Linked DNA regions of Homo sapiens: region 2 is linked to region 1. Evidence: fine-mapped expression QTL. A gene starts in region 1. The other region holds a variant in brackets. All regions are shown on one strand. Distances are between the middles of the regions. Region 1 holds the start of TMEM87B (transmembrane protein 87B). Region 2 overlaps TMEM87B (transmembrane protein 87B).

What was found.
Region 2: its variant is fine-mapped to the expression of TMEM87B in whole blood (TOPMed, PIP above 0.99).

The regions. Positions count from the first base shown.
Region 1 is chr2:112,053,697-112,056,604 of GRCh38, forward strand. TMEM87B (transmembrane protein 87B) reads left to right here and starts at 1,573. Exons shown (of 19, transcript NM_032824.3): 1 at 1,573-2,060. The coding sequence starts at 1,896. RefSeq lists silencers at 565-614, 815-1,544 and enhancers at 2,275-2,344, 2,375-2,714.
Region 2 is chr2:112,116,000-112,118,907 of GRCh38, forward strand. It overlaps TMEM87B (transmembrane protein 87B), which reads left to right. Exons shown (of 19, transcript NM_032824.3): 19 at 85-2,908. The coding sequence ends at 144. Among named protein-coding and RNA genes, the nearest start is that of FBLN7, 21 kb to the right of the region's middle. The variant A/T (reference allele first, on the strand shown) is at 1,515.

The sequences.
Region 1 (2,908 bases):
ATGCAATCTCTAGTGTATAGTAGGTCCTCAATAATTACTGGTGACTGGTAAAGCAGCCAAGGCCTTTGGACTATAAATCGATCTTATTCTACGTTAATAACAATATTAGCACAGGATTCTATTCCCTTGCTGGATATTATTTACATTTGATAATGAATGAACTAATTCTCTTTGACAGCAAAACATGTATTCAGCTTACAGCCGAAAATGCAAGGGAAGGTACACAATAAGACGGATCCAAGCCCTGACCCCTCTGAGCTTTAAGCCAGTCAAGTAACTACTTGTTCTGAAAAGTATTAACTGTCCTATTAACGTTAACCTTCACAACACAATGCCTTGTGTTCAACTGGCCTTGGCCTCAAAGCACTTTCCTGGCACATTCCCTGAATTTAAAGAACGGTTTCCATACAGCTGAGAGGGTCGAGGCAGGGGTAAGTGTAGAAGACGCAAGAAATGGAGACACCCTGGGAACAGAACTCTAGACTGCACTCCAACCGTAGCACTTACTAGGCATTCGACTCCAGGACCTTGACACTCGCGCTCGCTGGCGGCGAGCCCCGCCTCCCCACTGCGCCTCATCTCCCAGACAGGCCCCGCCTCCCCACTCAGGCCCCGCCTCCCCACTCAGGCCCGTCTCCTCACTCAGGCCACGCCTCCCCGCCCAGTCCCGTCTCCGTACTAGGGCTTGCTCCAAGCCCTGCTTCCTCGCCCAACCTGGCCTCCCCACTACGGCCTAACCCCAAGCCCTTCTCGTCCAGCCCCGTCTCCACACTACTGCCTGGTCCTCAACTCCGCCTCCCCACTCCGACCCCATCTCCCTGACCAGCCCCGCCTTTACGCTCAGGCTCCGCCTCCCCGCCGGGTCTTGCCTCCAAATCCCGGCCCCGCCTCCACGCGGCCCCGCCTCCACGCGGCCCCGCCTCCACGCTCGGCCTGGCCCCAAGCTCTTCCTTCCTGGGGCACTCTGTCTCCGCACTCCGGCCTGGTCCCGAGCCCCGCCCCGCCTCCACACGGCCCCGCCACCACACGGCCCCGCCTCCACGCGGCCCCGCCTCCACGCTCGGCCTGGCCCCAAGCTCTTCCTTCCTGGGGCACTCTGTCTCCGCACTCCGGCCTGGTCCCGAGCCCCGCCCCGCCTCCACACGGCCCCGCCTCCACACGGCCCCGCCTCCACACGGCCCCGCCTCCACACGGCCCCGCCTCCACACGGCCCCGCCTCCACACGGCCCCGCCTCCACACGGCCCCGCCTCCACACGGCCCCGCCTCCACACGGCCCCGCCTCCACACGGCCCCGCCTCCACGCTCGGCCTGGCCCCAAGCTCTTCCTTCCTGGGGCACCCTGCCTCCGCACTCCGCCCTGGTCCCGAGCCCCGCCCCGCCTCCACAGTCCCGAGCCCGCCTCCAACCCTGCCCTGTCCCCACACCCAGCTTGGCCCCGAGCCACGCCTCCCACCCCGCCCCCACACTCCCGAGCCCCGCCTCGTCTCCACACTCCGGCGGCGCCTCCCTACCCGGCCCCGCCTCCGCGCTCGGGCTGCCAGCCCTCCCTTGCACGTTCCGGCTCCTCTTCTATCTTCACGCCCACGCTAGGCCCTGAGCCCAGCCTCCACGTCTCGCCGCCAACTCCACATCCTGGCTCCTATCTCTGCCTTCCAGGCATCTCCCAGCTGCACGCTCGGGCCCGGCTCAGAGCCCTAAGCCCTGCCTCCCGGTCCTGGCCGGGTTTCCCAGAACTGCACGGCGCCTCTCCGCCCAGGCCCAAGCGCGAGCCCCTCCTCCACACCCGAGTCCGAGCCCCGCGTCCCGGATTCGGACCCGCCTGCCTGGGGCGGTGCTGCACCAGGTGCGGGTGTGGCAGGCGTCTCGGAGCGCCAGGTGCAGCTTCCTGGTCAAGATGGTCGCCGCCTGCCGCTCGGTAGCCGGGCTCCTGCCACGCCGCCGCCGCTGCTTTCCCGCCCGGGCCCCGCTGCTGCGCGTCGCCCTCTGCCTCCTGTGCTGGACCCCGGCGGCTGTGCGCGCGGTCCCTGAGCTCGGGCTCTGGTTAGAGACAGTCAACGACGTAAGTGGAGTGTCGGGACCCAGGCGTGGCACGTCTCGGGCCGTCAGGGCCGTCGTGCGGCTTCGCTTGACCCCGGGCTTGTTCACCCTGCCTCTGCCGGGTCAGCACCGGGTCCCCTGATACCCTCCCTGAGCCTTTTGTCTGTTACAGCCGGGGAGCGGGGAGCGGCCCCTCCTCCGGCCCGACCTGGGCTGCAGGCAAGAGCCGTCAGGATTGCGCATGGGACGGCCCTCGGGTCCGAGCGCTCGGACTGTTACTGAGGGTCACCATGCCCGACGCCGTGGCCCTCATTCTGCTCTGACATGTTTTGGCTGGATCAGGAATCTCTCGGCACATCTAGCAGCATCTTTGGGATTCGACTCTTCCTGTCCGGATGCAGCCACAGTGGGCCACACCCCTGAGGCCGCAGGGAGGACTTGCCAGCGCTTCAGTTTCTGCATAAACTTAGAAAGCGGGTCTGCCGCTTCCTTAAAAAAAAAAAAGAAAGAAAAAATTTAAATGAGGGGGAAACGTGCAGTAGTCACCCTACCTCTATTTCTCTCTTCTTGAGTTCCTGAATTTCTCTACAGTTCCTGTCACAGTTCCGGGAGAGAGAGTGTGTGTGTAGGTGGGGCGGGACTTGTGATTAGGGAGTGCTTGAAAGGCGAATCTGGAGGCATGAGTGGGTGGAAACTCTTCTTTCCAAGGCAGGCTATTAGAAAACTTGGCGTCTGGTAATTAGAGGAGATGATGTGGGAGAGATGCAGGGGCAGAATTATGGAAAGTCTTGCAAAAGAGAGACAGGAAGTCTGGAAGAGGCATTATCTCCGGCTTCTCTGGGGTCAGATGACTCATCCAGCACTGTTTGG
Region 2 (2,908 bases), 62 kb after region 1:
GCTGTTGAAAGATTAGAAAATTTTTGTTAGGGTTCTGGAAGTAGTATCAACATGTTGATACATATCTTCTTTTTTTTTCTTCAGGAAATCATGACCAGATCTGAAATGGCTGAAAAAATGTTCTCTTCAGAAAAGATAATGTGATTGGAACCCGTATAAGAAATGTAGTTAAGCCTGAAGGACTATCCTTCATCAAGACTGAAAGTGAGCTTTGATTTGATATTGCCTAAAAATTTTTATTGTGTTATCTTGGAAGTCTGTGTATCAAAATGAAGAATTCAGATGGTAGGAGGTTCTATAGTCCTTTTAAAGCTGACTCTTGAGTGTCAGTTGAATATCCATTAAATTGGATTTGGAAATAACCTGAGGAAAGTATTATGATAAAGATCTGCACAGATGCCTCTTAGCTGATAGGTGGCAGGCCTGTGGGTTTGGGTTCTCCCTCTTTTCTCTGGAACATATGACAATTCCAGATTAAAGAAAAATGTTTTTTAATAAATACCCTTGGTCTTTCTTCTAGTCACCTTTGAGGTAGATATTGTGATTTTCTGGAGTATAGTATATCCGTGTCTCTGTGTCTTAGGTTTACTAGATGCAATAATACTTCTCTTTGACATTTGTACTGAAGTGATTTGATATTAAGTAAAACAGTTAATGTTTGAATATAGGCATATTTATAGGTTTTTTCCGCTCCCCCCCAACCCACCCTTTTTAAAAAATCTATACAAAGCCCTTGTTTGAGTCTCATCATGCACATCAAATCATGGAGTTAGGTCTTCTCTGAGCTCAGGGGAACACAAGTGCACAGAGAGAGATGTCTTGAGGGTCACTACCAAAGAATTACCCTCATTGTCCCTCACTCAGGCCATGTGTACATGCGATGCTGCTGAGTGTGCTGGGGTGGGTGGTGGCCACGTGGCTCCCCCAGAGCACTTCCTAACTGGCAAGCTGGGAGACCCATTACTGGTGAACTTTGTGGAAATTAGAACTGTATCTTTTACATAATCTTGGCATATTACATTTCATAATAAAAACATACATTTAGTTGCATGCTACATCACTATTGATTTTATAATTAATTTCTTAAGCTTCAACCATGTTTTATACCTTATTTCGTTACATCATATATTTGTAATGTGTAATATGAAATCTTTTGCTTTAATGTCTTTTTTTAAAATGTAGAATGTTCTAAACTTGAAAGGCAATTGAATGTAGTATGATGAAAATGTGAATGTTTTGCTGCTTTCATGACCAAAGATACAGGGCTAGTGGACATTTAGAATAATAATTAAAGCTAGAGTCTTGTATGTCTTTTCTTTGAAGGAGTTCTAACCTTGTAAATTGAGAATGACTTCAGAGAATTTTGATTAAGAAAACATTAAAATCTTAACCGGCACAAACACTCCAATTTTTTTCACTGTGAAGCCGCAAGCAATTTTTTTTCTTTTTCTTTCAAAAGCCTACCTTCTGAATTTATTTCTTGTTTACTCATTTCAGAGAGGGTAGTAAAGAAG[A/T]TCTATTTCTGGTAGTCATATCGCTTGAAAGGTATTGGTAAATGTGTTTTCAGTCGTGACCATGTGGAAAGTGAACAGTGTTGGCAAACATTACCGAGAAAATCATGCTTTTCAAGATGCCCTTGCTTTGGGATATCCTTCCTAGGGAGAAAAAAAAAAAGTAGTTTAACAATTGTGAATTCCATTTCTTATTTCAGTTTCTGCTGCAGTAATGGGTTCCCACCCACTATAATTCCCAGCATTTATGTTCTGTTGTATTCTCCCCTTAGCCCAGTAACATTTTTATCTAATACCCCATTCCCCAAGTTTTGAGACAGATTGACCCCCTACTCATTATGTGGCTCTAGTTGAATTTTAAAATGTGGAATATTGGGCTTGCAGGCAGTAGGAGCTGCAAATCTGGTAGAGTGGGAGTGTGGAGTTAATGGTGAGTATGTTAATAAAGGGAAACTGTCTCTGACAGAATCTCAGTAATGTTTACCAAAACATGTCTTTCTACAGCTGGTAGGATAAATGATGCTACCCTGTAGCTCAGCTACAGGCTGCAGTGCAAACTTTTCTTCCATCCAGAGAAAGCAGAATTCCCTCCTAGTAACCTCATTACAAATACTGTTACTAGAAGGGCATGTGCTGTCTGTCACCTTCAGTAATATTTGTGCCATCTCTTGATGACTGATGACCTGGATCGAGTATTTCTATGAAGGGTCTTCTTAGGCCCCTTACATACGCAAGAGGGGTGCTCTAGTGCCATAGCTGTAGTTCACAGGAAGGACACCAGGAGAAGTTATACCTAGGGCTACTGAGCAGCTCATCATCCCTGTTTCTGCACAGTTTCCTGAAACTGGCCATCAGGGCCTCTGAGGCACTCAAATCAGTTTACTTTTAGCATGCCCCCATCAGGGTGGGTCTCACTGTTAGTGAGGATACGGGTCTGGTTTGATGTTTTTCTAGGCAAAATGCTTAAGTGTTCTGGTTATGCCATTCATTCATACGATGTGTGAAATTTGCTTAAAAGGGAATTTTCATGATTTGATTTAGATTAGTATTTAAATATCTGCTTTAGATAGCAATTAATTTTATTGTAAAAATAAGGAAAAATATGTGAATATGTGAATTTTTTAAGCCTGAGAGATGATAGAATGTTCCCATATTTTTCTTGTAAAGAAAATAATATTTTAACTTACACATCCTGTAGAAAATACCACCTTTTCCCCTTGTATTACAGTACAATGTTTACATTACTATACTGTCAAGCTGAAAGTATAAAAAATGTACATATACATTTTGAGTTATGTATCCTTTTTTTAAAAAAAAGTTCGAGTCTGTTGCACTAGGCTGTACATGACTAAAGTTGACAGATGCTATGCTAGATTTATAATCACTAGTTCTGGTAC